2 separate regions of the Homo sapiens genome follow, and region 1 is linked to region 2. The links come from fine-mapping of genetic effects on gene expression. A gene starts in region 2. The other region holds a variant in brackets. All regions are shown on one strand. Distances are between the middles of the regions.

Region 1 (14,825 bases), 29 kb before region 2:
TGCTGTCTCCATGGTAACCTGGGGGGTCCATCTGTACTTCGCCCCCTCCTTCTAAAAGGGGGTCCCTTAGGGAGGGGCTGGCTAATAAGGTGTCTGGGAAATAAGTCAGGGAAGGCAGTGATTGGAGCATCCCCCTTTGCCTGGCCCCTCCCCATTCCTCAGGCCCAGAGAGTAAGGCTGGGATCTGCATTGGGTCCTGCACTGGGGTCCGGGGACAGATGTAACCTTTAGGGTGAGGGAGGCAGCTCTGTCTTTTCCACCTGGGGATTCCCTTGGAAATTCCCCTGCCCCCAATCCCCCCACCAAGTTCTTAGGCTCCTGAACAGAACTGCTAGGAAGTTGGCAGAGAGAGGCAAGAGGGTTTCCTCAGCCCTCTTCAGGGCTGGACATCACCCAACCCCTGGGGACAGTGTCTTTGGCTGTCTGGCTGTCTGCTGTCCCTTGAAGCCAAAGGTAGGAGCAGCAGCCGTAGCAGTCTCTCTTGCTTATCAAGTGGTAGCTTTGGCAGTGATTCCTGCATGGTGCTATACATACAGGTCCTTACTGAAACTTTCTACCAGGTGTCAATTAGCCCTACTTAACAGATTTGAAGATGGAGGCTCAGAGGGGCTAAGTAACTAGCTCAAGACTGCACAGTTAGAGAAACAGCAGAGTTAGGACTTGAACTCAGCACTAGTTTCGGCCAGTGGCTCTTCCAGTGGAAAGGAGTAAGAAGAAACAGAACAGGATGGAAGAGAAGAGAAATAGGAGAATGAAGTGACCCAGGTAGGAGCCTGTCGTGCTCTGCCTGCCTGCAGAACAAAGTTCAAACTCCTTCACCTGGTACGCAAAGGTCTCCTTGATCCAGCTTCTCTTCTGTTAACCCATTCCTGGATCCCCTGCATTCTATGCTCTGAAAGGGAAAATGATGTCAGATTCAGGGCTGGGTTCTCAGTACCAGGCATGGCCCAGGAAGGTGTTGATGAAAATTGATGAACTGAGTTTCTTGAAATTGTCCTTCACTTTCCTGCCTCCAGGCCTTTACCCACAATGCTTCCTCCCCAAAGGGAATGCCCTTTCTCTTGCTCATGGACATTCTAGAGCTAACTAGCCCCATTGGCAAGGACTGCGTCTAGAATCTTTGTATCCCTCACAAATCAGGTACGTGGGATGTGGCAGTAACTGGTTTCTAAATTTTTTTTTTTTTTTTGAGATGGAGTCTCACTCTGTCACCTAGGCTGGAGTGCAGTGGTGCGATCTCAGCTCACTGCAAGCTCCACCTCCTGGGTTCACACCATTCTCCTGCCTCAGCCTCCCGAGTAGCTGGGACTACAGGTTCCCGCCACCACGCCTGGCTAATTTTTTTGTATTTTTAGTAGAGACGGGGTTTCACCATGTTAGCCAGGATGGTCTTCATCTCCTGACCTCATGATCCACCTGCCTCGGCCTCCCAAAGTGCTGGGATTATAGGCGTGATCCATCATGCCCAGCCTAATTTTTTTTAGAGACAGGATCTCACTCTGTTGCTCAGGCTGGAGTGCAGTGGTGTGACCTTGGCTCATTGCAGCGTCAAACTCCTGGGCTCAAGCAATCTTCCTGCCTCAGGCTCCCCGGTAGCTAGGACTACAAGCACACGCCACCATACCTGGTTTTTTTGTTTTGTTTTGTTTTTAGAGATGGGATCTTGCTGTTTTCCATGCTGGTCTTGAACTCCTGGGCTCAAGTGATCCTCCTGCCTCAGCCTCCCAAAGTGCTGGGATTACAGGCCTGAGCCACCATGCCTGGCCTATTTTTTTTTTTTTTTTAAGGAAAGGAGGGTTGAGAAGAGAGGAGAAGGAAGTGGGAGAGATGGAAAAAAAGGAAGAATGAGAAGGATTCACTATTTGGGGGCTGGCAGAGTCCAAAGAGACCAGCTGATGCCTTTTTTTTTTAAACCAGTGAGGAAATAGGCCCTTTTAGTAAGCCTCCTACATGGGGACTGCCTGGGAGAGCATTTTATGTGGAAACTGAGAAGGGTATCCCTTTTGGGTGACGTGGAATTTTAAGGTGCTCTAGGGAAAGCTTGGACTTCTCTACCCTATGAGGATTAGAGGAGGGTGTTGAATCAATTGTCCTTAGATCTCAGGGGACAGGAGACTGAACCTGACCTTTAGGTTACACTCCCCCCGTAACAAAATTGGAAAGTAGAATATACGGGCTCATTAAAGCCAAATTGGAAAGTAGGAAATAGTTGTTTAGCTTAAATACTAGCACCTCCAGGCAGGCTTCCTGTCATGGGCCCCTCCGAGGGCAGATCTTAGGTCATGTGGTCTCAGGATGCTGAGGAGTGTGCTAGACTCTCATTGGGGGACCTTGGGTAAGTCTCAAAGGCTCAGTTCACTCATCTGTAAAATAGGAAGTTAAACCAACGTCTTTCTTTCTCTCTCTTTTTTTTTTTTTTTTGGATAGAGTCTTGCTCTGTTGCCCAGGCTGGAGTGCAGTGGCATGATCTCAGCTCACTGCAACCTCTGCCTCCTGGGTTCAAGGAATTCTCCTGCCTCAGCCTCCCGAGTGGCTGGGATTACAGGTGCGTACCACCACACCCAGCTAATTTTTGTATTTTTAGTAGAGACGGGGTTTCGCCATGTTGGCCAGGCTGGTCTCGAACTCCTGACCTTGTGATCCACCTGCCTCGGTCTCCCAAAGTGCTGGGATTACAGGCGTGAGCCACCGCGCCTGGCAAGCCACCATTTTTCAAATGGCCTCTTCCCCAATCTTTTTATGATCACTTCAGTCCTGGGAGAAACCAAGGCTCAGGATGGACTGGGGCAGCTCCAAACCCTTCCAATAAGGAAGGTCCCAGGCACCTAGGGCCACAAAGAGCAAGTCGCAGAACTTTGTCGCAGAACTTCTCGCTCGAGAGGATTAAAATGGGTCTGGTCGGGTGCCTGTAGTCCCAGCTACTTGGGAGGCTGAGGCAGGAGAATTGTTTGAACCTGGGAGGCAGAGGTTGCAGTGAACAGAGATCATGCCACTGCAGTCCAGCCTGGGAAACAGAGCGAGACTCCATCTCATAGATAGATAGATAGATAGATAGATAGATAGATAGATAGATAGATAGATGATAGATAGATAAGATAGATAGATAGCCTGGTGTGGGTGGCCTATGGCTGTATTCTATGTTACTTGTCGGTCCACCTCTTCCTCCTGTTCCCCGCTTCTGTGGGTTGCCAGGGTCCAGCACAGTGATGTGAATTTCACCGGAGAATCACCAGAGGGTTAGAGAGATGGACCAGGGCAGGGCCCAAGGGAAAGGCTGCCCAGGAGGGGTCAGGACCAGCAAGATACGAGAGGAGTGAAGTGGCGTAGGTTGAAAGGCGGAAGGGCGGGCCCCTAAGGCTGGGTCCAAACGAGGAGGCTGCGGAAGGGAAAGTGTTATTGGACTGGGCAGAGCAGCTGGTGGGCCCGACGGATAGACATACACTGCCAGCCCGGAGTGGAAAGAACAGTTTGTGCTGTGCTTTATTAAAATGTGCATCATTCTTTTATTTTAAAATGTGCATCATTGTCTCGTGCTCGGCGCATGCGACCTCAGCGTGGTGGCCCGCTGGGGGCCTCGTTCCCGCCCAGCTCCCGCGGAGCCGCAGGGAGCAGGCGCACTCACGTGGCGCGGGCCCGGGGGCTCCCGCCCATGGCGAGGTAGACGTCGATGGGCACGTGCAGCAGCGTCAGGCAGTGGCATCCAGGGCAGCGACGAAGCGGCCTGGGGAAATTGACGCGCGACAGGGGCCGCTGAGGCAGGGGCTTGGCCCATCCTGTGGGGCGCACCCAGGGAGTGCACCTGGGGTCCCCGGGGGTCCGGACGTGGATGCGGGGTCCTGACTGCTGGGGGCGCCAAGTGGGACGGAGGGCGGGGCCGCGGGACGGGCGGAGGCGGGGGTGGGGCGCGGGCCTTACCTGACCGGGTTGTGCTCCGTCGCTACCGCCTCCGGGCTGTCCTGGGACTCGGGGGCGGCGGCAAGGCCACGGGAGTCTCCGGCCTCAATGGGGAATCTCCGACCCTGCGGGGGCTCCTGGGCGCTCATGTCCAAGCCCCGGGGCGCTCTGCGCGGGGAGTGGCGGTCAGGCCTCTCCCGGGTCGCCGGGCGCCGCCGCCTCGCGCCCGCCCCCTGGGCCGTCGCTCACCTCCCGGCGGTTGAGACCGGTCCCAGGCTAGAAGCAGCTGCCGGAGCCCTGGCCGCGGGAGAACGCTCCGGTCCAGGCGGAGCCGGGCAGGTCTCTGTGGCGTGCCCGGGCCCGGGCGTCGAGGAGGGCAGCATTGTGACCCGGGCCGCGGCGCGCTGACCTCACAGAGCACGTTCCTCCCACTGGAGAACCCCCAACGGTGCCCCCTGCCGCCCCTGGCACTCAGCGCGGGCCAGAATCGGGGACTGGAGGCCTCTGGCCATGGCGCCTGGAGACGGGGTCGCGCAGACCCCGGACACCCGAGGGGGGCGCAGCAGGCCAGGGCAACCCGCCGCGAGGCGGCGTCCACGCCGAGGAGCCGCGCATTCCCGGTCCACACAGACGCGGCGGAGCGCCCTCCCAGGCGGGACTACAACTCAATGCCTGGCACGGGGGCGGGCTCGGCGGTGACTTAATCCGGGCTGAGTTTGGTGGTGGTAGTGAGGGCAGGTAGGGGCACTGCCCATTTTGGCCAAGGGTCACACAGCATCTACATCACAATTGCACCGGAGTTTAAAAATGTCTGGCCCTGTCCCTCCCCACCACCCGCCGCTGTGTCCAGACAGAGAATGTTCTAACGCTGGGGGCGGCTGCGGATGAAGTCCTTGGGGAGAAAAGGAGCAGGCCAAGGGCGATGGTGGAGTAGAGCTGCCTCTCAGAGGCAGCATGAGCTGAGAGGGTGATAGGAAGGCGGCGCTAGACAGCATGGAGGACTTTCTGCTCTCCAATGGGTACCAGCTGGGCAAGACCATTGGGGAAGGGACCTACTCAAAAGTCAAAGAAGCATTTTCCAAAAAACACCAAAGAAAAGTGGCAATTAAAGTTATAGACAAGATGGGAGGGCCAGAAGGTGAGCCGGGGCCCCTTTGGAGGGAAGGAGGGAGGACTGGCTGAGGTGGGTGGGTGCTTCCTCCTGTTTGTTAGAACGATCATTCGATCATTCCCTGCTCCCGCTGGCCTGGAACCAAGCAAGCCCGATGGCAGCTCTGGAGTGGGTCAGTGGGGAACAGAGGGGTTCTGGGAGTCCAGGAACATTACACCCCCCCAGAATGCAAGATGAAAGTGGCATGAGGTGAAGGATCCTCAGAGGCAAAACCTGAGCCAGGCTTTCCTTTCCGGCAGGGGAACAGAGACTGGCAGAGGCCACAACCAGGGCTGGTAGAGAACAGGGGCTGGTGCCAAGGCCCGTGGAGATGGGAAAAAGGAAGACAGGGCTCATGGAAAGAATTGTGGGGTCAGGGGACAGTGGCGGGAGGAGCTGGCTCACCACCCTGTGGACAAATCAGGCCTTATAATTTGTGATTCTGTGGCTTTGTCTAAAAGTCCCTAAAGCACCTTGATATCCAGTCTCACAGACTGCTCACAACAGTCCACAAGGCTGGTGGGGAGTGCTTCTTTTGAATGATATACTAACGACAAAAATAATAGAAGTGAACATTCTTTGCAATGTCCAAGCAGCTAGACACACTTAAGACCATTAAGAAAGCCAAGAAATAAGACCCAGACAAGGTGGGCAGAAGTTGGAAGGCAGGAGACAGGTGTGAGGAGGTGGGCCTTTCTGATCTGCCAGCCCATCTCTCCTCCCCTTACTTCCTCAGAGTTTATCCAGAGATTCCTCCCTCGGGAGCTCCAAATCGTCCGTACCCTGGACCACAAGAACATCATCCAGGTGTATGAGATGCTGGAGTCTGCCGACGGGAAAATCTGCCTGGTGATGGAGCTCGCTGAGGGAGGGGATGTCTTTGACTGCGTGCTGAATGGGGGGCCACTGCCTGAAAGCCGGGCCAAGGCCCTCTTCCGTCAGATGGTTGAGGCCATCCGCTACTGCCATGGCTGTGGTGTGGCCCACCGGGACCTCAAATGTGAGAACGCCTTGTTGCAGGGCTTCAACCTGAAGCTGACTGACTTTGGCTTTGCCAAGGTGTTGCCCAAGTCACACCGGGAGCTGAGCCAGACCTTCTGCGGCAGTACAGCCTATGCTGCCCCCGAGGTGCTGCAGGGCATTCCCCACGATAGCAAAAAAGGTGATGTCTGGAGCATGGGTGTGGTCCTGTATGTCATGCTCTGTGCCAGCCTACCTTTTGACGACACAGACATCCCCAAGATGCTGTGGCAGCAGCAGAAGGGGGTGTCCTTCCCCACTCATCTGAGCATCTCGGCCGATTGCCAGGACCTGCTCAAGAGGCTCCTGGAACCCGATATGATCCTCCGGCCTTCAATTGAAGAAGTTAGTTGGCATCCATGGCTAGCAAGCACTTGATAAAAGCAATGGCAAGTGCTCTCCAATAAAGTAGGGGGAGAAAGCAAACCCAAAAACCCGCTTCTAAAATGGTGATATATATTTTACGCTTTAAGTTTACTTATCCTAAAACTTACCTACATCTACCCCAGCCTTACTACTACTCTTTCCTTTTAGAGATCTTCATGGAATCAAAGGGCCTCATTCAGACTTCCTTTTTTTTTTTTAAGAGTCTTGCTCTGTCGCCCAGGCTGGAATGCAGTGGCACGATTCCAGTTCACTGCAACTCTGCTTCCCAGGTTCAAGCGATTCTCCTGCCTCAGCCTCCCCAGTAGCTGGGATTACAGGCACCTCCCACCACGCCTGGCTATTTCTGTATTTTTAGTAGAGATGGGGTTTCACCATGTTGGCCAGGCTGGTCTGGAACTCCTGACCTTAGTGATCCACCCACCTTGGCCTCCCAAAATGTTGGGATTACAGGCATGAGCCACTGCGCCTGGCATGACAAGTGATTTTCATACTAAAGTTAATTAAAATAGACCCAAGAATCATATACAAACAGGGGGAAGAGAGGATAAAAATGACCAAGAGCAACTGAAGCCATTCTTGTTGCAACTTCCTTTCCAAAGGAAAGCAGAGGCACTGGGAGTGCAGAGATGGCCTCCCGACTCCTTGTCCCAGTGAGAGGCCTGTTGCGAGCCCTGACCCTTTCTCATCCCAAAGGCAAAGCTGAATCTGGGATGAGGACAAGGTACGTCCTCTGGACCTAGGCTATCCCCCTACCCTGTCTCTGGCTCCAAGTGGGAAGCCAGTCCTGCCCTGGCCCAGTGCAGCTGCCAAGGGGACAAAAACAGACCCCCAGACACCTTTCAGCTTCGGGTGAATCACTTTAATGCTGTTAACGGCAAGTCTGTAAAAGGTTCAGGACAAAGTTCTTTTTTCTTTCTTTTTTAATTATAAAACTAACAGCTGTTAGAATCTTTTTTTCTTTTTTTCCTTTTTTCTTTTCCCAGCTACAAAATACTCTGGGGAGATGCATTATAATTTAAAATATATAATATTGCACAAACAACCAAAAGGTTAATTAAACTAAAGAAATAATTACAAAGAGAAAAACCCCATCCCGTCAAAAAAAAGATTCAGCATTCTCTCCATCCCACCCCCTCACTGAAGGTTTGAAGTGGAAGTGACCTCACTCTCTCGGTGTCCCTGACCCACGATCCCTTTCACTCATTGGTGAGCACACCAGATTAGGTACAAGAATCACCA[G/A]AGCAGCATCGTGAAGCACCAGGCTCTCCAGAGATTCCTGCAGCCCCTCATTCCCCCAGAGGTGCAGCTTTACCAGAGTGGAGGGTGAGAGCACAAAGGCTGGGTCTGTCTTCAGGAAGAAGAGCTTTTGCAGAAGCCTGATGAGAGTTTCAAGTTCACCCCCAGGATAGCCCTTCCAGAAGCAGAAGGGCTGAGGCGGAGAAGCTAGGCTTACCAGAGTTGTAAGTACTCGGCTTTGATCACCGCTCTGTACCGCTGGTAGCTGTTTTGTGTCCTAAACTACAGGGGAGTTGAGGTGGGTAGCTGGTTGGACAAGGTATCCTGCCAGGCAACACACAGAAGGGCCTGAAGTAGCCCCCTCCCTTCTTGGGGAGGGGAAGAAACGCAAGAGCGAACTCCTGCAGGTGGCACAGCTGGGCTAAGGACTTGGGTGCATCCGACATGAAGAAGCCCTGGGAAGGCATGGGGACAGACCAGCGTGGGCTGGAGGAAAGGAAGGAGGTGGGTCAGGGTTTGGTCTCTGGATTCTGAACCCCAAAGGAGCCTTTCCAGGAATGGAAAATGCCTGGGAGGGGGAGAGTCCCAAGAGAGGCAAATTTCCCAGAGATAAGTGCCTCTTACCCACTGGGATAGGAACCAAAATGTGTTCACTGTCCCTGTTTAGCCAAGGGTAGGTGGCATGGCCCTCCCTGCCTGCTTATGTATGGACAGAGTATGTTGTCTCAGCTTCCTCCGAGAGAGACTGGTGGTTTAGCTTCTGTCTACACAGGCAGAAGGGCTAGAACTATCCCTTGGGACTTCCCAGCAGGAGTCCTCAGGAACAGTGGGTGTTCAGCAGAAAAACACAGGCTCTTCTGGTGAGGAGGATAGGTTTCCTCTCCCTTGGGTCATCCTATTGTTGGCACAAGTCAGAGTTTCTGGCCGGGATTTAGAGAGCCCCTTCCCAGGTGTGAGCAGAGGCCCAAGAGGGCCAGCAGGGAGCCACCAGAATCTGTGCCCAGAGCTCTGGTTGGCAGAGGAGATTTGGGGGAACATTCTCAGTCTTCCAGGGCTGGGCTGAGACGAGCGAGGGAGGCGAGAGATGCCATGGGTGGGGGAGCTGCTCCCTCTGGCTCCCTCACTCCCAGTCCTCCCACTCTACATCTTCCAGCTGCAAATGGGAGGGGGTAATGGAAATCACAAACACATAGTTACTCCTGAGTCAGGCCCAGACCTAACCTCCACTTGCTGAGCAGAGCCACCTCCCATCCCCTACCCCAGGCCATACTCTGAGGTCCCACTGAGAGTGAACCCCTAGTCTTAAGGAATGTGTCTGAGGGGCAGAGCTGCCCTCTGCCTGAGGGGTGGGCCTGATGCTCTGATTACCTCAGACCTAAAGGAAACACTTCCCCCAACCAACACCAGACACCACAAGGTGATGGCTGCCTACAGGAACCAAGTCAGCCTCAGTCCTTTAAGGAGAACTTGCCTCCTGCTGAGCAGATAATGCCATGGCTCTGAGAAGCAGAGAACTCAGGAGGCCTGAGCAGATACTTGGCCCTGGACACAAAAGACCAGTGTAATCAAGGGCAAGTTACTTAGTCTTTGGGTGAATGGAGGCCACTGCCTGAGTGGCACTGTGGCCAAAAGCAGAGGTGGCAGTGGCCTACAGATGCCCACTAGGTCTTCACTAGGGGCACCAACACCCTAATTCCCAGCTCAAGTCTCCCCACGGAACGTTTTCTTGCTTTGTTCCTACTCTTGGCCTGCTGTCGGCTAAGCCCTGGTATAGCAGGTTCTAGAATGCTCACGTGTACTGCACGTCAGGTTTTAAAGGGGGCTGCAAAGACACAAAAAGCCAGCAAGCCCCTGTGGCCTGACAGGGCACTATGGGCTTTCTCTGTCCTGGGTATAGTGAGGTAGTCACAAGTGCAAAATACTCCTGAGTAGGTAAAATACTCCCCCAAGGCTTCAGTTTCCCATCATGAAAAAGGAGGCCCTTCACATGTCTCTCTAATCTGTCCACCTCTTTCTAACAGGCTCATAAGTTACATGATGGAAGGACTCATGTGGTTCTTATGTGACAGTGGAACTAACGCTGACATGAATCAGATGTCTGGGTTGCAGCCTCAGTCCTGTCACTTATTAGCTGGGAGAGCTTTGGACTGTTCCAGCCTCTCAATCTAAATGAGCCACTTTTGATTCTGAGAGGTAGTGAAGAATAACAGTACTAAGGCCTCCTTGAGCTTAATAACTGGAATGGGTTTTGTGGGGTTTATCACTAATGTCTCCTGAGTGCTGGTCACCATGTCTCAGGCAATAGCCCTAAGGTGTCTACATGGATCACCTCATTACAGCTTATAGCCAGGTCTTATAATGATCAATTCCATGTTTTAGATGAGGAACCAGGGGCTCAGGTTAAGTAACTTGCCCTTGCCCTTGATCACACTGGTCTTTTGTCTCCAAGGCCAAGTATATACTCAGGCCTCATACCTGAGGACCACAACTCAGAAGGTCAGGCAGGGTTTGATGTCTGTTTTCTTTTTTCCTTTTTTTTTTTTTTTCAAAAACAGAAATGGGGTCTCACTATATTGGCCAGGCTGGTCTTGAACTCCTCGCCTCAAGCAATCCTCCCACCTTGGCCTCCCAAAGTGTTGGGATTACAGGTGTGAGCCACCGCGCTCAGCATGACATCTGTTTTCTTAAGCAGTTTCTCAGGCAATTTTGATACAGAGCTAAGGTCAAGAACTTGACCCTCTATCCACCCTGGAACTGAGGAAAAGTGCAGCCTGCTGATGACCAATGTTGTGGGTCTGAGCAGGAAGCTCCAGCTCCTTTCCCACCACCTGTCACCTCAGACAGGAGCAGGGACCCTCCTGAGGGGACAGCTGGGCTGGCTGGGGAGAGCTCTCACACCCAGGACCATTAGGCTCGCTTCCCTCTGACCCACCAGGCCCACTCACCTCCCCGGAGGCATCCACTTTGGAAAGTGCCATCTGCACCTCCTCTTCAGTCATGTCCAAGTCAAAGTCTTTCTCCCAGTCCTCACTGATGTCCGTGCTTGAGCCTGGAACCACGAGCCACAGTGTGAAAAGCAGGAGGAGGCAGGGAAGGGGCACCTGAAGAGGGTGTAGCTGGGGAGATAGCATGCTTCAAAAGGGTCTCACAAATACACAAGTCTTTACATTTTGTGTTCACTCTGGCGCACCAATCGTACTTTTTTTTTTTGTTTTCTTAGATGGAGTCTTGCTGTCACCCAGGCTGGAGTGCAGTGGTGTGATCCCGGCCCACTGCAACCTCTGCTTCCCAGGTTCAAGCGATTCTCCTGCCTCAGCCTCCCAAGTAGCTGGGACTACAGGCGCACGCCCCACACACCTGGCTAATTTTTGTATTTTTAGTAGAGACGGGGTTTCACCATGTTGGCCAGGCTGGTTTCAAACTCCTGACCTCAATGATCTGGCCACCTCGGCCTCCCAAGGTGCTGGGATTATAGGTGTGAGCCACCGCACCTGGCCCCCACTTTTAAGAATCTATTCTAAGGAAAAATCTTGGATTCAGTCAGAAATTTAGCAAAGAGTGTTCACTGCAGTGCTGTCATAGTGATGGAAACCTAGAAACAATCTGAAAGCCCACTGACAGGGAATTAGACAAGTAAACAGTGAGTTACATGGTGGAACACTGTAGGCTGTTAGAGGTTAGGCTGGAGAAGAACTTCACATCCATGCCAAACAGCCTTAAACTATTACCTCGGAAAAGGCAGGTTACTAAAGAGCGGAGAAGCACTTTGGCCCAGAGGCTCCAAGAGAGTCACAGAAATCTTCCAGAGGAAATCAACAGTGAACTGAGACCTTGTCTCTAGAAAAAAATTTAAAAATTAGCCAGGCATGGTAGTACACACCTAAGGAGTCCCAGCTACTCAGGAGGCTGAGGTGTGGTGATCACTTGAGCCCAGGAGTTCAAGGCTGCAGTGAGCTATGATCATGCCACTGCAGTCCAGCCTGTTGACAGTGCAAAACCCTGTCTCTAAAGAAAACAAAAACCTCCCCTCGGACCCCCAAACAGTAGACCTCTTCTTCCTCACTCCATTCTGCCCACACTAATCTTGTTCCTCCAGAAACATACCAGGCGCATTCCCAACTTAGGGCTTTTGCATGGGCTGTTCCCTGCACCTGGAACTCGTATCCTCAGATATCTACAAGACCAACTTTTCACCTCCTTCATGCCATTGCTCAAATCGTACCTTCTAGATGTGGCCTACACTGACCATCCTAGTTTAAAGAGCAACCCATCATCACCCTCACTCTGCTCTAGTTGTTCTTTTTTTTCTGAGACAGAGTCTCGCTCTGTCACCCAGGCTGGAGTGCAGTGGCACGATCTCAGCTCCCTGCAACCTCCGCCTCCTGGGTTCAAGAGATTCTCTTGCCTCAGCCTCCTGAGTAGCTGGGATTACAGGCACCTGCCTGGTACCACATCCAGCTAATTTTTGTATTTTTACTTATTTATTTATTTTTTGAGACGGAGTCTCGCTCTGTTGCCCAGGCTGGAGTGCAGTGGCGCGATCCTAGCTCACTGCAACCTCTGCCTCGCAGGTTCAAGTGATTCTCCTGCCTCAGCCTCCTGAGTAGCTGAGATTACAGGGGCATGCCACCATGCCTGGATAATTTTTGTATTTTTAGTAGAAACGGGGTTTCACTATGTTGGCCAGGCTGGTCTCAAACTCCTGACCTTAGGTGATCCGCCTGCTTTGACCTCCCAAAGTACTGGGATTATAGGCGTGAGCCACTGCGCCTGGCTCTGGATTGTTCTTTTTCCCATTGTAGTGATCACTTTCTAACATATTACATAATCAGACTTAATATGTTTATTGTATATTAATAGAGGAGTTAGAATATAAGCCCTGTGAGTGCCAGGATCTTTTGTTTTGTTCTCTTATGTATTTCAAGTTTTTAGAACACATAGTTGGCACTCAATAGTCACAGACCCTTTCTGTAAACCAGGGGTTGGCAAACTATGGCCCAGGGATCAAATCTAGCCATGTCGCCGGGCGTGGTGGCTCACGCTTGTAATCCCAGCACTTTGGGAGGCCGAGACAGGTGGATCACGAGGTCAGAAGATCGAGACCACCCTGGCTAATGTGGTGAAACCCCATCTCTACTAAAAATACAAAAAATTAGCTGGGGGTGGTGGCAAGCGCCTGTTAGTCCCAGCTACTCGGGAGGCTGAGGCAGAAGAATCGCTTGAACCCGGGAGGCAGAGCTTGCAGTGAGCCAAGATCCCGCCATTGCACTCCAGCCTGGGTGACAGAGTGAGACTCCGTCTCAAAAAAAAAAAAAAAAAAAAAAAAAAAAATTCTAGCCATGTCACATCATTTGTTTACATACTGTCTATGGCTGCTTTCATGCTGCAAGAGCGGAGATGAGTAATTTTGACTGCATGGCCCAAAAAGCCTAAAATATTTATGGTCTGGTCCTATACAGAAAAAGCTTACCACCCTCTGCTCTAGATGATTCTGATGCCTGTCTGTACTATTTGATGATCATTGCTCTAAACATTCATATTTGGCTATGACTTCTTACAGGTAATATTAAAAAGATATATATAAAAGTTATTACTAAGAAGTAAACTACACAAATAGTTCCTTTCAATAAAGCATGTACAGTAAGATTCCAGCTTTAAAATGTGCCCATAGATGCATGCACACATGCAGAAGAGATGAGCAAGATATCCAAATACACTAGCAAAGTTATCTCTAGGTGATGAGTTCATGAGGTGATTTTCCTTAATTTTTTTCCTAAAATGAACACATACGACTTTGTAATCTTTTTTTTTTTTTTTTTTTTTTTATTTGAGATGGAGTCTCACTCTCGCCCAGGCTGGAGTGCAGTGGCACAATCTCGGCTCACTGCAAGCTCTGCCTCCTGGGTTCACACCATTCTCCTGCCTCAGCCTCCTGAGTAGCTGGGACTACAGGCGCCCGCCACCACGCCCGGCTAATTTTTTATATTTTTAGTAGAGATGGGGTTTCACCGTGTTAGCCAGGATGGTCTCGATCTCCTGACCTCGTGATCTGCCCGCCTCGGCTTCCCAAAGTGCTGAGATTACAAGCGTGAGCCACCGCACCCAGCCTGTAGTCTTTTTTTTTAAGTACCTTTAAAAAGAGTGGGTCCCTGATCCTCCAACGGCATGACCAGTAAACATCTCCGTTTCTTCTTCTCCGACCTACTCCTCACCAGATGCCTCCGCGCTGAGACCTACCCCTCAGCCCCGCTCCCACATTCCTTCTATGGTATCCTGCATCATCCTCTCTTCTAGCCAGAGCATGGTCTCTGGGGCCAGGCAGACCTGGGTTGAATACCTACTCCTTTACTGTGTAGTCTTGGGCAAATTATTGTTGGCTTCAGTCTATTTATAAAATATGGATAAAAGCAACCTCTGCAAAGAACCACTGGAGAAGCGTATTAAAATACAGACTCCTACCCTGCCCACCCCCAGTCCCAACTAAGACTCAGCAGGTCTAGCTGGTGGCTGGGAAGGCTGCATTATAAGCAGGTACCTGTGTGTTCTGTGTAGACCTGGCCCTGCCGTTTGAGAAACAATGGTGTTAGAATTAGAGGTATGAATGTAAAGTGCCTATTACATACATACACATGGCTATGTAATGAATGGTGCTGCCTTTCTTCTAAGGGCCTTGTCTCAGAGTTATGTCATTCTGTACACGGTACCTCAGGAAGTCAGGGCAGCCAAGACCCAGCTCTTCTGACTCTGCACCTACATCCCTCTGTGCCTTCAGGACACTTAGGTGACATTCATCTGGCTGTCACCACAGGCTTCCTGTGGGTTAGCCAGACTCTTCGCTGCTTCCTCACTTCAGGGCTTTGGTTGTGGCCATGACAGCTTTCCCTAACCTCAGGTTGCCCTCTAGGGACTTGAAACTGTCTCTTCAGGCTTAAATGCTATGGCAGAACCTTTCAGGGGTAGAGAACAGAGTATCCACTAACATTTCTGGAATATTCCACATCTAGCTCTTGGGTGGGTATTAACAGTCCCAGTATACGGATGAGGAAATGAAGGCTTCAGGTGGTGCAGGGAGCTGTGAAGCTGGGTTCTCTCTGCCATCTGCCTCCTTCCACCGTCCTACCCTGTCACACAAGGAGAG
Region 2 (14,825 bases):
GCAGAGAGTGCAGGGGAATTTCCTGCTACTCTGAGCATGAGGACTGAGTCTCAGCCTAGGCACTCGCAAGCTATGTGGCCATGAGTAAGTCTCATCTAGTTCTCAGTTTTCTCCTGTAAAATGAGGTGATCTAGATCAGAGATTCTCAAGAGCAAACAGGAAAAGAGGGGGCATAGTCTGAAAACAATACTGACTTTGATGAATTGCTTTGATATGCTTTAAATCACGATATTCATACCAAGTTTCAAATAACATGAAAAAAAGGTATGTGATTTTTTTTTTTTTTTCTTGAGACAGAGTCTCGCTCTCGTTGCCCAGGCTGGAGTGCAATGGCACGATCTCGGCTCACCGCAACCTCCGCCTCCCGGGTTCAAGCGATTTTCGTGCCTCAGCCTCCCGAGTAGCTGGGATTACAGGCATGCGCCACCACGCCCAGCTAATTTTGTATTTTTAGTAGAGATGGGGTTTCTCCATGTTGGTCAGGCTGGTCTCGAACTCCCAACCTCAGGTGATCCGCCCACCTTGGCCTCCCAAAGTGTTGAGATTATAGGCGTGAGCCACCCAGCCTAAGGCATGTGATTTTTTTTATCAAAGGAAAGTGTTTCTATTTTTACTTTTTTTGTTACAGAGAAATTGAGTTGAAATATGAGGCAGTATGTGAAGTTATTTGCCTTCGGGTTTAAGAATTAGTAATTACTAATTGTATTAGTAACAGCAATAGCTTGGAAAGCTATTTTATGAGTAATTCTTAACAATTTAATATCAGTAAAAAGGCATGTGATTTTTTACATTCAACAAAGGAGGAAGCGGTCAAGAGAAAGACTAGATCAGATTCTCTTGGAGGCCTTCTTGGTTCTACCATCCCGAGGTTCTATTCATATACAAAGCTCCTTTGGGCAGAATGCATATTTGCTCCTGCTAAACCAATCTGTTTCTCAGCCTGCACCCAGACCTCACTTGAGAAAGCAGACCCTCAGCTCACTTCTAGGTCTTGCCCTGTCTTGCTTCAGACTCACCAACTCTAGGATGCTTCCTGGAGTATCTCAGTGGCCACTCCCCCTGCAAGCCCTTTCATCTTACACGGGGATAATCACCTGCATTTTTTAAAGCATGTTTTTGAGCGCTCCTGTGGTTTGTTCTTCTGGGAAGGGCCTGCCCACTTTTCATTAGCTTGGGAAGTTTCTGAATGGCACAGTCTATCAGCTACAGGCTTCTCTAGGGGTGGTAATCATGCCTCCATATCAACTCAGGACTCCTTAATTGGGGGTGGAGGAGGTCATTTACTTATTTACTTTTATTAAAATTTTAAAAAATATTTCACAGCACCATGAAATTGTGCCCTGGGTCATTTACCGATTCACTCTTTCTATCCACACTGCCACCATCTTAGTCCAGGCCAACTTATTCTTTCACCTGGATTCCTCCCAGGTTGTCTCAGCCACCTTTACTTCATTCTCCTTATGACACCCAGTGGGTGCTTTGTCTGTCAGGGCAGACCGTGCTGCTTTACACTCTTTAAGTTTACACACTATCCTAAGAGCAAATTGAAAATCCACCTTTACTTACAAAGCCTATATAACTTGGCCTCTGGCAGACTGGTATCCCCTACCACTGTGCCGTTCACTGAGCTCCAGCTGGCCTTCCTCAAGTTTCTAAAATGCCCTAGCATCTGTCCTGCCTCAGAGTATCTGAACACATTGTTTCCTCTCCCTGATACAGAGTTCTAACTCTTCAAAAAAACCAAGTCTGTAAACACGATGAAGGAACCCTCTTATCTGGAAAACTCCTGTTCATCCTCAACGTCTATGCTTCATTTCCCTAGAGGGGCTTCCTGCTGCCTCTTCAGGCTCAGCTGGCTCTCCCTGCTTTATCTCTTCTTCTTTTTTTTCTTTTTTTTTTTTTTTGAGATGGAGTTTCGCTCTGTTACCCAGGCTGGAGTGCAGTGGCGCGATCTCTGCTCACTGCAACCTCTGCCTCCCGGGTTCATGCCATTCTCCTGCCTCAGCCTCCCGAGTAGCTGGGACTACAGGCGCCCGCCACCAAGCCCAGCTAATTTTTTGTATTTTTAGTAGAGACGGGATTTCACTGTGTTAGCCAGGATGGTCTCGATCTCCTGACCTCATGATTCGCCCACCTTGGCCTCCCAATTTATCTCTTTTCTAACACTGAACATAGTTTAGACTTCAGATGACCTGTTCAATGTCTGTCTTCCTGGATAAACTGTGAGTTGTGTGAACACAGGTCCTATGTGTTTTGTTCCCTGATGGTTCCCCAGTATCTGACACAGAGCATACAGTAGGTACTCAAAAAATGTTTGCTTGTTAAATTTACATGGACCATTGAAATTTCAATTATGTAACCACTTGTGTGACTAAACAGTTGTCTTCCCGCTAGACTGTGAGCTCTGAGCAGACAAACATGAACATACGTTGCCCTCAAGCAGGTCACAGTCTACTGGGGAAAATGGTCCCATGATAGTGCTGATGTGCAAGGGCAGAGCAGTAGCTGCTGTACTATGGGGAGGTTGGGAAGATGTGGTGACCAGAAGCCTGGAATGGGCCCTTAAAGAATGAACAGGAGTTGGTTAAGAAGTATTGATGTGGGCCAGGTGCAGTGGCTGATGCCTGTAATCCCAGCACTTTGGGAAGCCGAGGCAGGAGGATTGCTTGAGCCCAGGAATTTGAGACCAGTTTGGACACTATGGCAAAACCGTCTCCACACACACACACACACACACACACACAAATACAAAAAATTAGCCAGAAGTGGTGGTACACGCCTATAGTCCCAGCTACCCAGGAGGCTGAGGTGGGAGAATCACCTGAGCCTGGGTGGTTGAGGCTGCAGTGGGCTGTGATCATGCCACTGCACTCCAGTCTGGGTAACAGAGTGAGACCCTGTCTCAAAAAAAAAAAAAAAAAAGAACAGGAGTCAGCTAAGAAGTGTTGACATGGGTTTAGTGACGTCTACAAGCATTACAGTCCTGATGGACATAAAATGTGAAGCAAGAGTGGTGAGGGATAAAGCTGGAGAGGTTGCCAAGGGCAACCAGGGAGAGCCTGGTCAGCCCTATGGATGATGGGGAGCCACCAAAGGTTTGAAGTGGGTGGGACATGAGATTTGCCTTTTCACTAAATTACTCCAGTGACTGGAATGGAGGAAAGGTCCAGAGGCGAGAAGATTAGAAGAGGAAGAAGGAAGACCAGTCAGGAGGCTGCTGCAATAATCCAGGAAAGAAAATAGAAAAATGTGAGTAAGGACAATGCTAGTAAAGATGGAGAGGATGAGACTGGTTCAAGATACAGGAGATGGAAGAAGGTGGATTTGGTGACTGAACAGGTATGTTGACTGAGGGCTAGAAAAGAATCATGGAAGCACCACAGGCTGCTAAAATAGGTGACTGCGTAGATGCAGTACTGCCAGCTAAGTGAGAAAATCCTGGAGGAGGAGCAGTCCTAGAGACAAGGTGGTAACAATGACTTTGGGCACGCAGAACTTGAGATGACTGTGGGCTGTCTAGGATAGCTGTCCAGCAATAGCTATCCTCAAACACTAAAGCTGGCCGGGCATGGTGGCTCATGCCTGTAGTCCCAGCACTTTGGGAGACCAAGGTGGGCAGACTGCTTGAGCCTAGGGGTTTGAGACCAGCCTGGGCAACATGGCGAGATCTCATCTCTACAAAAAATACAAAAATTAGTTGGGCGTGATGGTACACGCCTATAGTCCCAGCTACTTGGGGGCCTGAGGTGGGAGGATTGCTTGAATCCAGGAAGTGGAGGTTGCAGAGAACCATGTTTGCATCACTGCACTTCAGCTTGGGTGACAAAGTGAGAGCCCATCTCAAAACAAAGCAAAACACAACACTAAAGTTCAGGCAAAAGGTCTAAGAGTCGCCCTAACAGGAAAGTGGAGAAGGTGACCCAGGAAGAGTTTGGAAAGTGGACAGAGCAATGGGCTGAGGACAAGTGTCCTCAGACACTACCTGTAGGGGGCAAGCAGAGGAAGAGGAACTCATGAGACAGTTACAAAAGCAACGTCTGGAGAAGTATGTGGAGACTTAAGAATCATGTCACAAATGCCAAGAGAGTAGCGTTTCAAGAGAGGGAGTGATCACTAGCGTCAAATGCAGCAGAATGGTCCAGGAAGATAAGGGCTGAAAACCACCCACTGGATTTGGCAAGCAGTAGGTAAAGCTGACTGAGTAAAGATAAGTTTATAGGTGGTGGCTTTGAGGGTGGGGAGAGAGTTAAAGATCCTGTTTGTTCACCTGAAGTTTCAAAAAGTAGATGAGGTTGTCTCCTGGAAGTGAAAGGGATAAAGCGGCTGAATAGGGGACCCCAGGGAAGAGTTAGGTTTTGGGAAAGTTTCTGAAGTTAAGGGGAGGAGAAGCAAATTGGAGACTGAAGAGTATGTGGGCCCAGATGAGGTTGGGGAATCTGTGATGGAACCAAAAAGCATTTGGTGCCTTTCTCTTTTTAATTTCTTCTTTCTGGTAAGTATGTAGAGCAATGATATGCCTTTCTCTATCAACGTGTATGCACACGTATTTGTGTCAGTCATATTGCCCTTGACAACACACAGGAAGACAGGACAGGAGGAGGTAAGGAGCAGAGGAAAGCAGATGATAGCACCATCTCATAGCTGTGGTCTTCAGGGCAATGTGTTCTAAGGAGTGCTGAGAAGTGAGTGGTCCAGATGGAGCCAGAATGGGACATACAGATAGGAAAGCACCAAAAGACCAAGAAAAAAAATGGAAGGAAAAACGAACTGGGGGTGGTATCTAAGAGGTTTTCCCATCAGCCTCAGCACTTAATAACAGCTAATGCTTATATAGCACTTACTGTATGCTAGGTACTGTTCTTAGTGTTTTACATATATTAACATTTAACCATCACCACAATCTCATCAAGTAGGTATTGTTAGTATTCCCATTTTATAGATGAGGAACTGAGGCCTAGAGAGGTTAAAAACTTGCCCAAGAGGCCAGGCGTGGTGGCTCACACCTGTAATCCTAGCACTTTGGGAGGCCGAGGCAGGCGGATCACCTGAGGTCAGGAGTTTGAGACCAGCCTGGCCAACATGGTGAAACCCTGTCTCTATTGAAAATAGAAAAATTAGCTGGGCGTGGTGGCACATGCCTGTAATCCCAGCTACTCAGGAGGCCGAGGCAGGAGAATCACTTGAACTCAGGAGGCGGAAGTTGCAGAGCTGAGACTGAGCCACTGCACTCCAGCCTGGTAACAGAGCCAGACTTGGTCTCAAAAACAAACAAACAAAAAACAAAAAACACTTGCCCAAGTACATATAAGAGTAAGAAAGTAAAAAAAGGGAAATTACGTCTTTTCTTTCCAAAAAGGCATAAACAACTCCCACCTCCACCCCCACCCCAGCTTTTAACTGGGAATTCCAAGAATGAAGACGGAAGGTTGGCCAACTATCTATTTTTCATAAGTTATGATAAGACCAACCTTGAGACAAACACAGGAGGCCCTCATGCAACATCTGCTGAATGAATGTCAGACTTTCCTGCCAGGAAATTACCCAACAGGAAATATGCTACTATCGGGTCTCTTCTATCAAATGTTAGGGTGCAAGCCTCTCAGTCCTCATCAACAACATAAACAGCTCAGGGCATTCTCAGATTTGCTGGGCTATTGCTGAGAGGCTGTCCAGGAGTACCCAGGATAAGGGAGGAATAAAAACGCTCCCAGATGTCTGGGTGTGGTGGCTCACGCCTATAATCCCAGCACTTTGGGAAGCTGAGGCAGGTGGCTCACCTGAGGTGAGGAGTTCGAGACCAGTCTGGCCAACATGGTGAAACCCTGTCTCTACTAAAAATACAAAAATTAGCCAGGAGTAGTGGCACATGCCTGTAATCCCAGCTACTCGGGAGGCTGAGGCACAAGAATCACTTCAATCTGGGAGGCAGAGGTTGCAGCGAGCTGAGACCGCACCTGTGCACTCCAGCCTAGGTGACAGAGTGAGACTCTGTCTCAAAACAAAACAAAAATACTCCCAGAGTAGAGGACTTATTTAGGTGAGGTCAGAAGCTTCCTGGAGTTGGCCCTGAAGCAGGACTCATCCCAATTGCTTGAGGTAAATAGTAATCAACTTTTCCCACAATTCAGTTGGGCTGATTTTGACAAATAAGCATGAAATGAAACAGGAATACACATTGGCAAATTACCCACTGGCACAGCCAAATATCACTCATCCCACAGAGATTGTTCAGCAAGAAGGCCTTCCACTCTCTGGTGATTAATCTCTCTCTCTCTACTGCCCGTTGCATAGCCCCTACTTAGAACTCATCAGGCACCAGTGTGTATGGCTCATGCTCATCTCTGGCTTGGGTTCTTGCTTTTCATCCTGTCTAGGCAGGGTTGCCCTTGATGAGGTTCCTTCTCCACAGGGGCCTTCCCTGGTGAGTTACTGACTAACCAGAACAGACAAGGTGCCCCTGTACTTTCCTTTCACAGAACTTACCACAACGGTAACTAAACAACTATTTGTTTGGCTACTCGGTTAATGGCTGTCTCTCCACTAGACTGTGAGCTTTGTAAGGCCCAGGATTACATCTGTTTGGCTGAAGTCTGTATCCTCAAGACCTATCAGAGTGCTGGTTGTCGCATATACTCTAATATTTGAATGACTATACGAGTAAGTTTTTTTACTGCTAGAATCTTTTCCTTCAAGACCTGTATCAAATGCTCTCTCTTTCACGAAGAAACTGAATTTCCTGAGCTGGAATAAATTGCTCCTTCCTATGGATTCCTACAAAACGTTCGTTAACTCCAGCCTTTAAAACCATCTTTATTTCACTGTGGCTAGTATCACACTGGTTTGCGTCGAGGTCTGTCTTCCCGTGGACCGGTAGAGGCTAAAAGAAAGGCCCAGGTCAGCCTCATCCTTGAGACTTAGCGCCCGCAAAAGTTGGGCGGGGCTGGTTGGACCAGGTTGCATTGAGGCGGCGCAGGGCCCTGCTGAGGGAAGAAGGGCACGGGCCCGGCTTACCTTCTCTTTGACTGCTTGGTAGCTCTGCTGCAGCCAGCTCCGCCACCATCCCACGTCCTCCCTGTGGAAGACAGACACATCTGGCAGCACCGCGGTGCGATTCCTGCCCGCCCAAGGATCCGGTTTGTTCCCCGCTCAGATGTACCCTGCGGGCCGAGGCTTCGCAGACCGCTTGCCCACCCCCTCACAATGCGACTCCACTCTGCCCTTTCAGATCAGTCCACGCCCCCGCTGATCTCACGTTCCCCACCGGGACTCTCGCCCAGCACCCCAACCCTGGGAGAATTCAGGCCCCAACGCCTAGGAGCAAAACGACAAGCTCACCCTTCCGCCATCTTGCCTGCATGACATCACCACTATTTACTGACCTTTGACTTCCGACACGGCACCGCCCCCTCAAGGACCGCCCCCGAGGCGCTCGGCCCAATCCTCGCGCCGGCACCGCCCTCAGCCCAATCCCCTCCCTGCGCCATCATTAGGTCCCGCCTCCCTGAACTCTATCCAGTCTCTGTCCCGAGTTCGCCCTCAAACTCCGCCCCTGAACTCTCAGTTCAATCGTCATTCAGTCCTGTCCTCAGGCTCCACCAAGCTTGACTCTTTGTCACTGTCCGCAAACGTCGGGTACGGTGGCCTCTATGGACGATGATCAGCCGACAAGCTGGACTGCGGAGAGCTGGGAGCAGAGGGGAGGAGGAGAGATAGCTCGAACGTCAGGATCCCAGAGCGCAGGGTTAGGACCGCCCCCCTTTGTGAAACCAGCTGCGTAGAGGCTGCTTTGTGTCTCTTTGGGCTAATTCAATAAGCCCATATTGCGGGGCTGTGGCCCAGAGTTTGGAGGAATGTGAATAATTCAGAGGCGACTTAGATGCAGCCTTTGGAGGGCTTACGGGTTAATGGGAGACACACACATTCAGTAATCTCAACTTTCGGTGGCCCAGCTCAGAACAACGCCAGGTGGAGGTGGTCTGGAGAAATCCGGAGACCGCCTGGATTGAGTTCTACTGCGATTGGAAGGGAGATTCCACAGCCCACATACTTTGGACTTTAATTAAGGTCAGCCCCTCCACGTGTGCGGTAGATCCCATCGCCTCTTGTTTGCTTAAGGACATAGATCTAGTAATCCCCCCTTCATCTCTTTTCCCTCTGATGACTGCATTTATCCTTGTCATCATCCGTACTGCTGTTTCTCCCATCTCAAAGGCAAACAAAAACCAGCCCTCTCTATATCCCTCACCGTTTCCCTACTCCCCTTTACAGCAAAAGCGTTGCCTACTCACAGTCTGCAACTCCCCTCTCCTCCCATTCTCTCTTGAACTCACTGCAGTTAGGTTTTTGCCTCTCAGACAATCCTTTGAAATAACTTTCTTTTATTTATTTAATTTTATTTAATTTTATTTATTTTATATTTATTTGTAGCTCTGCTGCAGCCAGCTCCGCCACCATCCCACGTCCTCCCTGTGGAAGACGGACACATCTATTTTATTTATTTATTTATTTTTGGTCCTCCCTGTGGAAGACGGAAACATCTATTTTATTTATTTATTTATTTTGAGTCAGAGTCTTGCTCTGTTGCCCGGGCTGGAGTGTAGTGGTGCAATCTCAGCTCGCTGCAACCTCTGCCTCCCGGGTTCAAGCGATTCTCCTGCCTCAGCCTCCCGAGTATCTGGGATTACAGTTGTGCACCACCATGCCCGACTAATTTTTGTATGTTTAGTAGAGATGGGGTTTCACTATGTTGGCCAGGCTTGTCTCGAACTCCTGACTTCAGGTGATCTGCCCTCCTCAGCCTCCCAAAGTGCTGGGATTACAGGCATGAACCACTGCACCCAGCCTGACATAACTTTCTTAAGGTCGCCAAGAGGAATGGCCACTTTTCAGTTCTTGTTTTACATCCGCATCTTATTTGACACAGTTGACCACTTTCTTCATTTGGCTTCCAGGACATCATGCCCTCTTGACTTTCTTCCCCGTTCATTGGCATCTCAGTATTCTTTGCTGTTTTCTCACCGCCTTCTTGTTGCTGGAATGGGATATTCCCTGGGAGAAGGCTCAGCCCTTGGTGTCCTCCTCCTTTTTGATGTTTATAGTCATTCCCCAGATATTCTCATAAAGTCTCATGATTTTATTTATTATTATTTTTTAAGATGGAGTCTCACTCTATTGCCCAGGCTGGAGTGCAGTGGCATGATCTTGGCTCACTGCAACCTCTGCCTCCTGGGTTCAAATGACTCTCCTGCCTCAGCGTCCAGAATAGCTGGGATTACAGGCACCCACCACCACACCCAGCTAATTTTGTATTTTTAGTAGAGATGGGGTTTCACCATGTTGGCCGGGCTGGTCTTGAACTCCTGGCCTCAGGTGATCCACCCACCTCGGCCTCTGAAAGTGCTGGGAGTACAGGCGTGAGCCACTGCTCCTGGCCCATTTTATTTTATTTTTAAGACAGGATCTTACTCTGTCGCCATATTAGTCCATTTTCACACTGCTAATAAAGACATACCTGAGACTGGGCAATTTACAAAAGAAAGAGTTTTACTGGACTCACAGTTCCACATGGCCAGGGAGACCTCACAATGATGGAGGAAGGTGAAAGGCACATCTCACATGGTGGCAGACAAGAGAAGAGAGCTTGTGCAGGGAAACTCCCGATTTTAAAACCATCAGATCTCATGAGAACCATTCACTATTATGAGAAAAGCACGGGAAAAACCCGCCCCCACCATGATTCAGTCATCTCTCACCAGGTCCCTTCTACAACACGTGGGAATTATGGAGCTACAAGATGAGATTTGGGTGGGAACACAGAGCCAAACCATATCAGTTGCCCAGGCTGGAGTGCAGTGGCACGATCATGGCTCACTGCAGCCTTGACTTCCTGAACTCAAGCAATCCTCCTGCCTCAGTCTCCTGAGTAGCTGGGACTACAGGCATGCACCATCAAGCCCAGCTATTATTATTTTTTTAAATAGAGATGAGGTCTCCCTGTGTTGCCTTACTTTTAATTTTTCTTTAGCAGTGCTTCACTATGTTGCCCAGGCTGGTCTCAAACTCCTGGCCTCTAGTGATCCACCCACCTTGGCTTCCCAAAGTGCTGAGATTACAGGTGTGAGCCATCTCACTAATCTCATACTTTTAAATGCCATGTATATGCTGATGGCTCTCAAATTTCCTCTCCAACCCATACATTTTCTCTGAACATCAGGTTCATTTTGTCTATTTGCATGTGTAATAGGTGTATTATTTTTAACATGTCCCAAAACAAACTCTTGATTTATCCACCTCATCTTCCTGCAAACTTTCCCACATTTGTAAATGGAACCTCATTATTCCAGTTGCTCGAGCCAAAAACCTAGGAGTCATCCTTGCTTTCTCACTTTCTTTCATACTCCCAAACTAATCCCATCAGCAAATCCAGTTGGCTCTGCCTTTCAAACAAAACCAGAATCTAGTGACTTCTCACCACCTCCACTGTTATTATGTAGATACAAGCTACCATAATCAATCTCATGGTTAATTACAAGAGCCTCTTAACAAATATTTCTGCATCCACTCTTGCCTTCCTTAAGTCTAGTCTTCATTTGCCTGAAAGTAATCTTTTAAAAGACATACGTCACTGGGAATGCAACTGGTATGGAATACAATATGCCATTTCCTCAAAAAAATTAAACAGAATTACCATATGATCCAGCACTTCCACTTCTGAGTATATACCCAAAAGAATAGAAGGCAAGTACTCAAACAGATATTTGGTGGTTTTTTGTTTGTTTGCTTGTTTGTTTTGAGATGGAGTTTTGCTCTTGTCACCCAGGCTGGAGTGCAATGGCACGATCCCAGCTCACTGCAACCTCTGCCTCCCGGGTTCAAGCAGTTCTCCTGCCTTAGCCTCCCTAGTAGCTGAAACTACAGGCGCATGCCACCACGCCCAGCTAATTTTTTTTTTTTTGAGACAGAGTTTCTTTCTCGTCACCCAAGCTGGAGTGACAAGCAATCTTGGCTCACTGCAACCTCCACCTCCCAGGTTCAAGCGATTCTCCTGCCTCAGCCTCCCAAGTAGCTGGGATTACAGGTGCCCACCACCATGCTCTGCTAATTTTTGTATTTTTAGTGGAGACAGGTTTTCACCATGTTAGTCAGGCTGGTCTTGAACTCCTGACCTTGGGCGATCCACCCACCTCGTCCTCCCAAAGTGCCAGGATTACAGGTATGAGCCACCATACCCAGCCCTGGCTAATTTTTTGAGGTTGAGGCTGCAGTGAGCTGTGACCATGCCACTACATTACTGCCTGTGCAATGGAGAGACCTTGTCTTTAAAACAAAGAAAAACATGTGTGTGTGTGTGTGTATATATATATATATGTATATGTATATACATGCCAGATTACAGCCTTCCTCTGCCCAAAGTTCTGCAATGTCCTCTTATTTCACTCAGAGAAAAAGCCAATAAGTCCTCACAGTCTCCTTTAAGGCCCCGTATAGTTGATCTGACCTCACATTACTGGCCCCCTTAGTCACTCTGCTCCAGACACATTGGCTACTTTGATATTCCCTGAAAATTCCCGGGACTCTCCTGACTTGGGGCCTTTCAACTTGCTGTTCCTTTTGTTTAGACTGCACTTACCTCCAGATATTTATGTGCTTCTAACTTTCACCTCATTCAGATCTTTACTTGAATATAATCTTCTTACTCACCCTGACCACATTATTTAAAATCACAAGTTGCATAACAAGCACCCCCATTTCTCTTCTCTGACATATTGTATATTATACTTTGTTTAAAAAATTGTTTGCCTCCTTCAGACTAGAAATGCAACCTCAATGAAGGCAGGATTTTTGTCTGTCTTGTTCACTTGTCTACGGCTAGCACCTACAACAGTGTTTGGTACATAATAGACACTCAATATTTGTTCAGTGAATGAAAGAATAAATGCAAGGAGAGTGAGGACAAAGACAGGACTAATTTAGAGCAATCTGGAATAGCTAAAAAGAAAAAGGAAAAGAGAGGATGGACGTGAGGCTGTAAAGGTCATTAACATCTCGATTCTTGAGAGCCTTGAATGCAGGACTTAAAATTCATGGACAGAGGAGAGTCACCAAAGGTTTGGAATAAGGAAATGATTTGTGTTGTGAAGATGATGTGATCAAATGATTGAATGCTACTGTTAACAGATCTAACGGTGCCATTGGGGTGAGCACTTTATACAGTGTACCTTCCCAAAAGCTCAATGAGGTGGGAACTATTTTTAATCTACATTTTATAAATGAAGAAGGTGACCAGGCACGGTGACTCATGTAATCCCAGCATTTTGGGAGGCTGAGATGGAAGGATTGCTTGAGCCCAGAAGTTTGAGACCAGTATGGGCAACATAATGGCACCCTATCTCTATTATTATTATTATTATTTTGAGACAGTTTCACTGTGTCGCCCAGGCTGGAGTGCGGTGGTGCAATCTTGGCTTACTGCGACCTCAGCCTCCCAGGTTCAAGCGATTCTCCTGCCTCAACCTCCTGAGTAGCTGGGATTACAGGCGTGCACCACCACACCCAGCTAATTTTTGTATTTTTAGTAGAGACAGGGTTTCGCCATGTTGGCCTGGCTGGTCTTGAACTGCTGACCTCAGGTGATCCGCCTGCCTCAGCCTCCCAAAGTGCTGGGATTACAGGCATGAGCCACTGTGCCCGGCCTCTATTATTTTTTTTTAAATAAAAGTGAAAAAGCTAAGATTCTGAGATATGGGGTGACTTTCTCAAGGTAACACAGCTAGGAAATGGCAGAACTCGGATTTGAACCCAAGGCTGTCTAATAAAATCAAGCTTCTGTGCATTTCATGCTAGTCTTAACTTCTTCCAACCTTATGTCCTGCCTCCCCACCCAGATGATAGCTGCAGGCATCCTGTCCTTCGTTATCTTCACCTTGTCTCATTCCTCACCCCCAGGCCCAGCAGAGTGCTCGCCCATGATGTCCCTAGTGACTGTGGATTCAGTGGGACCCTTTGCTTGGGTTTCTTTGGTCTTCCTTATCTGTTCACCCCAGTACCTTGACCGTTGGCTCCTTTCACTGCCATAACCTCTGGCATCAAACATATTCATCCTTTTTTTTTTTTTTTTTTTGAGGCAGGTCTCACTCTGTCACCCCAGCTGGACTGCACTAGCATGATCATGGCTCACTGCAGCCTCAGCCTTCTAGGCTCAAGTGATCCTCCTGCCTCAGCCTCCTGAGTAGCTGGGACCACAGGCATGTGCCACCATGCCTAATTTAATTTTTTTTTTTTTTGTAGAGATGGAGTCTTGCTATGTTGCCTAGGCTGGTCTACGAACCCCTAGGATCTAGCGATCCACCTGCTTTGGCTTTCCAAAGTATTGGGATTACAGGCATAAACCACTGTGCCCGGCCAATGTCTTCATCCTTAACATTGGGATACTAATTCTGGTTGTTGTAATGACTAAAGAAAATAAATAAAACACCTAGCACATTGCAAGGCATAAAGTCCTCATGTAGGGATTATGATTGTCTTACCTCCTTACCCCTGTCCTCAGAGCCTCATACAATGCTAGGCGCTGGTAGAGGGCTAATGGACATCTGTTGAGTTAAACAGTATGTTGAAAGAACACTGGTTTGGGAGTCAGCAGAGCTAGATTTTAATACTGGTTTATGGGCAGTTGTCACTTTTTCTCTCTGAAATTCAGTTTTTTCACTGTCCTTGGGGCCTCTACAGTCTCCTGCAGCTCTTAGGCAAAGTATGAATGCAGGTAAATCCCACACCCTCAGACCCTCCTTTGACTCAAATCCCCCCTCTGACACTGCTGGACCCCTTTTGGCAGATGATTTTTTTCCTACTCCCCCTACCCACCCCATTAGAATTGGCAGGTGATTCTTATCCCAGGATCCTGGCTTTTGCTCCCAAGGAGCCCTGACACCCAGGTGCCACCAGATGGTGCTGTGGACTCATTCTTCACGGGAAGCTGGCTCCCGGGCTCCCCGGCTCCCTATCTCCCCGGCTCCTAGGAGAGGCCTTCTGGCTCCTCTGGACAGGGTGGGGTTCCTCCGTGGAAGGCTGCTAGGCCTGGGATAATCCTGGGAGGTGACTCAAGCCTTTCAGAAATTTCCAAGGCCCAAGCCCGCCCTCGGTTTGGCGTGCAGATTCCAGCATAGAGTTGGCAGGAGGACTGGCTGCGTAATTTGTAGAACCCAGTGTAAGACCAAAATGCCTAAGTTACTGATGCAGGCAGCACAGGGAATGCCTAAAAGCCCATGGACTGGTTCTAGTTCAGCCCTCTAGAGCTGATTGTTAACATTTCAGGAATTTTGGCCGGGTGTGGTGGCTCACGCCTGTAGTCTCAGCTACCTGGGAGGCTGAGGCAGCAGAATCACTTCAGCCTGAGAGGCAGAGGTTGCAGTGAGCAGGGATCGAGCCACTGCACTCCACCCTGGGTGACAGAGGGAGACCCTGTCTCAAAAAAAAAAAAAAAGAAAGAAAAAGAAAAAAAGGAATTTTAAAAGCTGGTTGTTGAACACGGACATTATTTAATTAAATTTTATAAACTTACCATTAAATAAGTTATAGAGCTGGGTGTGGTGGCTCACACCTATAATCGCAACTTTTCAGGCGGCTGAAGCAGGATGATCGCTTGAGCCCAGGAGTTCAAGGTTACAGCGAGGTATGATTACACTATTGTACTCCAGCCTGGGTGACAGAGCAAGAGCTCATTTCTAAAAAATAAATAAATAAAATAAAAACAAAGGTAATAAATAACCCAAACTCATCACTATGTAATTACTTTTATATATTTCACTATCATTTATGCTCACTTTACT

Evidence for each region. PIP is the estimated chance that this variant, and not a neighbour inherited with it, causes the effect. A credible set is the group of variants that fine-mapping cannot tell apart.
Region 1: its variant is the best candidate, but not a certain one, in a credible set for the expression of BSDC1 in blood mononuclear cells (TOPMed, PIP 0.69).

The regions. Positions count from the first base shown.
Region 1 is chr1:32,357,815-32,372,639 of GRCh38, forward strand. It overlaps FAM229A (family with sequence similarity 229 member A), which reads right to left and starts at 4,671. Exons shown (of 3, transcript NM_001167676.2): 1 at 4,144-4,671; 2 at 3,916-4,062; 3 at 3,456-3,721. The coding sequence starts at 4,277. The coding sequence ends at 3,619. TSSK3 (testis specific serine kinase 3) reads left to right here and starts at 4,725. Exons shown (of 2, transcript NM_052841.4): 1 at 4,725-5,032; 2 at 5,781-6,498. The coding sequence starts at 4,888. The coding sequence ends at 6,442. It overlaps BSDC1 (BSD domain containing 1), which reads right to left. Exons shown (of 11, transcript NM_018045.8): 10 at 10,633-10,736; 11 at 6,819-8,840. The coding sequence ends at 8,808. LOC124903933 (a long non-coding RNA gene) reads left to right here. Exons shown (of 3, transcript XR_007065642.1): 3 at 1-3,514. RefSeq lists silencers at 3,953-4,252, 4,403-4,602. The variant G/A (reference allele first, on the strand shown) is at 7,691.
Region 2 is chr1:32,387,069-32,401,893 of GRCh38, forward strand. It overlaps BSDC1 (BSD domain containing 1), which reads right to left and starts at 7,373. Exons shown (of 11, transcript NM_018045.8): 1 at 7,336-7,373; 2 at 7,012-7,072. The coding sequence starts at 7,346. RefSeq lists enhancers at 6,414-7,111, 7,099-7,388, 7,112-7,807, 7,679-7,758, 8,506-9,201 and 1 more.